Linked DNA regions of Homo sapiens: region 1 is linked to region 2. Evidence: fine-mapped expression QTL. A gene starts in region 2. The other region holds a variant in brackets. All regions are shown on one strand. Distances are from middle to middle.

Region 1 (2,923 bases), 400 kb before region 2:
ACTACATCTGTGAATGTTTTCTCCATTACATTCCTAACATTGTTTCACACCATTTATCTTTTAGTCTTTTTAGCAACTTTTCCAGAGGTTTTTCTACTTTATTAATCTCTCAAATAGTACTATTTTTGCTTGTTGGTCTTTTCTATTATTTGGTTTGTTTATTGGTTTGTTTTCCAACTCATTAATTTCTACTTTCTACTGCAGCTATCATTATTATGTCCCTTCTTTTACTTTCTTATGGTTTACTAAATTGTTTTCTGGTGCTCTAATACATTTGGGACCTTTTTATTCACCGTTGTTTTTATTGAAATACATTGCAGACTACATGGTTTTGATGATACTGAGTTCTTATTAGTTATTGCCTTTCACATTGTGGCCAAGTATATTGTTAATTTTTCAAATGTTTCTTCTTGCTTGTAATAAAAATATATATTCTTTTATTATTAGGTATAGGCTAGAGATCTACTAATTGTACACTTTATTCTCCATTACATTATAAACTTCTCTAAGACAAATACCACATTTTATGATTTTTACATACCTGGAACATTGAGAGTACCCAATACTTGAAATATTTACCTTCTTGGAACATTAAAAACACCTAATGAGCTGGAAATAAATGAACTGGAAAATGAAGTTTTGATCTCTTATGTTCAGTAAAAGATATTCTTTCTTTGAAAAAATAAGTATATTAACATTGAACTTTCTAAAGAAATTTTGGTTAGTTTTACTAAAACCTGGTTAGCTAGCCAGCTATCTAGAGGAAATATATAAATATCTACATTGCATGTAAATTATTCTTCCTTTCTAAATTCTTTTTGTTCCCTAATTATATGCAGCAATTTATAAGTAAATGCATCAGCTTTCTATGCCAATGAATTTTTGTCCATGATTCCTCTCATCTTAATTCAACAGTAAAATAAAACTCCTATGTGCATCAGAGATGAATACATTTCATGATATTATGATTTCTAAATAAGTAGTCCATGCATGTTTGTGGAGACAATACCTGGTCATAATGAAGTAAATTGTTTTGTTTTGTATGATAAAGCACCATAATGAATTATAAGATTTAATTAGGCAGTGATTCTATTTCAAGTCTGATTGTTGATTTGTCATTGCTTTATAGAGACTACGACACTATAATTTAAGGACTTTAATGAAAATGAATTAATTTGAAAGTGCTTCTAATTCTGCAGCAATTAAGTGATTTTTCTCTCATCCACTAAAACTTATTTCTATACAAGAATGGATTTGCACAGCATCATAGTGGGAAAAAAATCATTATTGTTAGTTATCATGAAAGGCAATCAGAATTGAAGGCATTATTATGTGTTTTACCAACTTGCCAACTATTCCACCCCTTCCCTCAAATACATGCAAAACACTGAAGACAAATCATATCCTCTACTTGAAGGATAGGAGGCGGACTTTTTTTCTCTCAAATAGGCTAGAAAAAGCATATATGGGTAATCAGTTAAATGATAGAAATCTTTAAACATCTGAGCACATTACTCTTGAGACTCTAGTAGTGTATACATTATAAATTCATAAAGGGGTCTACTCTGTGACGCCTTGTGTCAGGGAGAAAATGGTACCATGCAATTGTTCTCAATAAGCAATAAATGTGTTCTCTGGTGTTTGGCAAACCATTACACCATTTATTTAGAGTAAAGCTCATTATTTTATTCTATTAAATATCTCACTTTCAACACTGTTAATGAGTTATTTATCTGAAATGTGATCACTAGCACTTCTTTCACTTTAAGACTACCTTCCCTTTGTACAGAATCTACTTCTCCTCTGGG[T/G]TATGGTGTTAAAGTAAACTGAGGATTGACTCCTTCTGTTTCCATTAAAGAACATCATGGTAACAAAACCTAGGTTTTTTTATTATTATCATTTCCTCCTGCCACCTTTTCAGCTTAATGCTGGAACTTTTAACTCTTTCTAATATTTTCATTAGGACATAAAATAAACAAATAATGCCTTATGTGTTTCACTAGCACTTATTCCATGGGAGATAAAACTTACAATCTGGTTATGTACTAAATACAAGGAAGAACACTTCCTCACCCTTTTGAAATCTGTCTTGGGCTCTTTTACATAAACTGATCAATTTTCCTAGAGTTGCAGCAGAGCTAAGTGATGAACCTGTCTTCCATGTCTCAGTAGATCCTTAAAAAAAAATTAAAAGAGCAAACTTAAATGGGCAATGAAGCATTGTGAGTCCTTCCTCTACAATGCCATGCTACCTTGCAGCTTCAGTGTAAACTCCTTGAAAACAAGAATGAACGTTACCTTGTTTCTAGATCCACAATAGCCCCTATCGATGTCCAGGCATAGTGAGTGCTCAATAAAGTGGTAAATTGATAAGGAAGGAAAAATTCATTTGTCGAGTATGAAGCAAGATTATTAAACAGTTCATTTCACATAAAAGACTCAATGTGTTTGTTGTTGAAGCAGAGAGAGAGAAAGAGAGCGAGAACAAGAGGAATTGAAGTGTCACTTAAATTAACTCATTTAGACTAAAAGTCAAATTCATTCCCATGTGAACTTACTGTTGGCCAAGGTCATAAGCACTCCTCAAAATTTTCCTCAGATGTGTTTGTAAGGCAGAATCAGTCGTATGACTCTCTCTATTGATTACCAGCATTTGGTTTTTCACTTTACAATGCTACTAAAATAGGCAGAGTCTTGCCTATTTTTTCTTCTAGTATACAATATGTTTGTTTCCCTTCTGAAATCTCCCTATAATCTGCACTTCCTACTCAATAGAGTATTGCCCCATTTTTAATTTTGTTTTAATCACTGTGGTCATAAATTATCCTAGCAATGTTTCTTATTGCATTACCATGGTTAAATGAGTGTAATCAATGAAATTTAATATATCTGTGTTGACTTGAGTTCATTATGAGTTTGGTAT
Region 2 (2,897 bases):
GGTTTTGGGGAAACCAAGTAGATATATATATATGCACAACTGTAGTTTGAAAATGAGTATGTTCCCATTGATCAAAAACTCTTTTAGGTGGAGTAAGGATTCTGTGTCTTTTCATTCATTCAGAAGCATTTGCTTGCCTAATCTACTTTATACATGTCACAATAAGAAAGCAATCATTAGAAGGAAAATGGAAGGTTTTAATCAGTCTTAAAACCTAAATATAAATGAAGAAAAACATTACAGGAAAAATGCTCTATTTCTCCATCTCTCCATTCCCCTCCCTCTCTCTCTTACACACACACACACACACACACACACACGACAATCAGAAGAGCATCTGGCCATTCATTCATGGTACCCAGATTTGTGCTTCTTGGTCTTTAACAGGTTTCTCAGGATGTCCCCACATTCAAACACTCTGTGTGGCATCTATCCTGATCTTCAACTTAGAAAATATACTCATTATTCCTTGTAAGTAGAACTCTGCACAGCTGCATACAGAAGAGCGTCTCGGCAGGGAACAGTGCAGGTTCACAAAGGGGCCGATAAAACATATAATTTTAGCTTTGGTAATTGCCCTTGAAGATTACAATAAGAGGAGGAAAATAAGGGCCAAAGAAACAAAAGATTTGCCCGTGATTTGATAGCTGGTTTCGTCACATATTATGTTGCTTATCCCACAGAATGTGGGAATCCCAGAAAGCGCCCCGTTTAAATTTAGACCGTATTTTTAGCAGGGTCCCTTTAACAGAGATTGCGGGAACCTGGGAAGGAACTGAACTGGGCTAACCAAACCGGTCGAAATGAGCACAGGGATTAGATTAGAGCACAGAAATTCTGGCTAGCAGTCTGAGAAAGGGGGCCAAAGCCAGCCCAGAGAAAAGGGAGGTTGCCTGGGCCAAAGGCTTTCTGACAGGAGACACAATAGGGTCGTACCTCTGGGTCTTACCTTCACTGAGGTTTCTACCCGACAGGTTTAACTGGCCGCTCTTCCTCGCTGCCTTCAACAGCCCTTGGGGTACCGAGGTACCGCAGTCTCTTCCACCTGCTTTGAAACCAGCGCGGAGATCCTGCCCCGCTATCCGCTTCAGGCGCGACATGTTCAAAGTCCTAGGTCCAGAAGCTGCAGCCCCACCCGTGACGCTTAAAGGTGGCGCCGTTGGGATGCCCCGCTCCTTTCGTGAGCGCGCGCTCTGGGCGCTGGGCTCGCGGCCTCGCGCTGGGCCTTCACTCTCTGCGGCGCAGTCCAGATGTCGTCAGCACCAGCGCCTGGGCTGGAGGACAGAGAAGCCTTTTCCGTTGCCGGTGCCGGCCTAGCGTCCTGGAATTACTTCAATCAAGTAAGTGCGTTTAACGGGCTTAAGAGGGGCTTTCGGGTTTATTGTTTGCACTGTTACTGCGACTCCAACCTTCTCCTCTGTGCTTCCACCGTGGCGAGGGTGTGGGGAAAGAGAACCCTCTCTTCTCCCCTCTCCTAGTCTGAACGTGGGCCTTGACTAAAACTTGAGATCTGGGCGCGGTCGGCAGCGTTTCTGGACCCCAGCCTGTGTTTGTCGCTTGTGGTGGTGGCGCCAGACCTCTGGCGTACGGAGTAAAAGAAATTTTCTGTTCTTAAGGCTTGTACTCTGACACCATTCTCGTTGTATTGAGGGTATATAGCTTACCCAGCAAAGGAGGTAATGTGAAATGGAAGGACTGGCAACATAGAAGACAAAAACAAAAATCCTTAAAATTTAATAAATGTTCTGTGTATCAGACAGTTTAGGGAGACAAGTAGTGGTACATGCTTTAGTGAAGCTCAGACAGCTTGGATTTTTGAGCCCTAAAAAGCAAGTTCAAATCTCAGCTGCTTCTTTACTTTAGAAACTGTTAACTTTAGGCAGTTTACTCAACCGCTTTTAAAGCTCATTCCTTTTTTTCATTACTTTGGGGATAATTCCTACCGCATAAGGTTTTTGAAATAAGTGAAGATAAAAACTAGAATCTTGAGCTCTCGGTGAGTCCAGAATAATAGCAAATGAAAATTTTGTTCAATGTAAGTCGGTGTTTCCTAGGAAATTAAAATTTTCATCTGAAATGTACAACTTCTTGATTCAACAAGTAATTATTAAGATTAATCCTGCCTAGTATGTGTACTATCCTGGGTGCTAGACTTTTCTTTTGCCTGAAATGATTTTGTTTTAAAAGCATATGCCAGGGAATACCATTCTAACCCCCATCAAGTCTACTGAGGATTGGTAGAATAGTTGAAAGCTAGGATGAAGGCCCTTTGATCAATTCTTCATCACGCACTTTTACCTGAGTCCAGGTTATTGCTACCTGTAAAATTCGGTTTTTAACTCTACCCTTTTTGTTCTTATTTCTGTGGAGTCCTTTACACTAATATCGAACAAGAGAAAGTTACCAATAGTTGTTACCCTACTAAAAAAGCAAAGAGTGGATTTTTGTCTTTTTTTTTTTTTTTTTTTTGAGACAAAGTCTGGTCTGTCGCCTAGGCTGGAATGCAGTGGCGTGATCCCGGCTCACTGCAACCTCCGCCTCCCAGGTTCAAGTGATTCTCCTGCCTCAGCCTCTCCAGTAGCTGGGATTATAGCCGCGCACCACCACACCTGGCTAATTTTTATATTTTTTAGTAGAGACGGAGTTTCGCCATGTTGGTCAGGCTGGTCTCGAACTCCCAGCCTCAAGCGATCCGCCCAGTTCGGCCTCCCAAAGTGCTGGGATTACAGGTGTCAGTCGCCGTGCCCAGCCTGAGTTTTAAAGGAAAACGACCGTAGCAGCTTTTGCAACGTTATTAATGAGGTCCCTGGTCAGCTTGTCTTCACAGTAATGGTAATAGCTGCCTTATTGGGCCCATACCAGGCTCAGTGCTAATAATACCTCTGTTTGCTATTTCT

The links. PIP is the estimated chance that this variant, and not a neighbour inherited with it, causes the effect. A credible set is the group of variants that fine-mapping cannot tell apart.
Region 1: its variant is the best candidate, but not a certain one, in a credible set for the expression of LRRC40 in blood mononuclear cells (TOPMed, PIP 0.79).

Annotation. Positions count from the first base shown.
Region 1 is chr1:69,803,834-69,806,756 of GRCh38, forward strand. The region is part of intron 4 of LRRC7 (leucine rich repeat containing 7); the gene reads left to right. Among named protein-coding and RNA genes, the nearest start is that of LRRC7-AS1, 240 kb to the right of the region's middle. The variant T/G (reference allele first, on the strand shown) is at 1,809.
Region 2 is chr1:70,204,441-70,207,337 of GRCh38, forward strand. It overlaps LRRC40 (leucine rich repeat containing 40), which reads right to left and starts at 1,139. Exons shown (of 15, transcript NM_017768.5): 1 at 950-1,139. The coding sequence starts at 1,100. It also overlaps a transcript of SRSF11 not described here. RefSeq lists enhancers at 733-792, 1,053-1,362.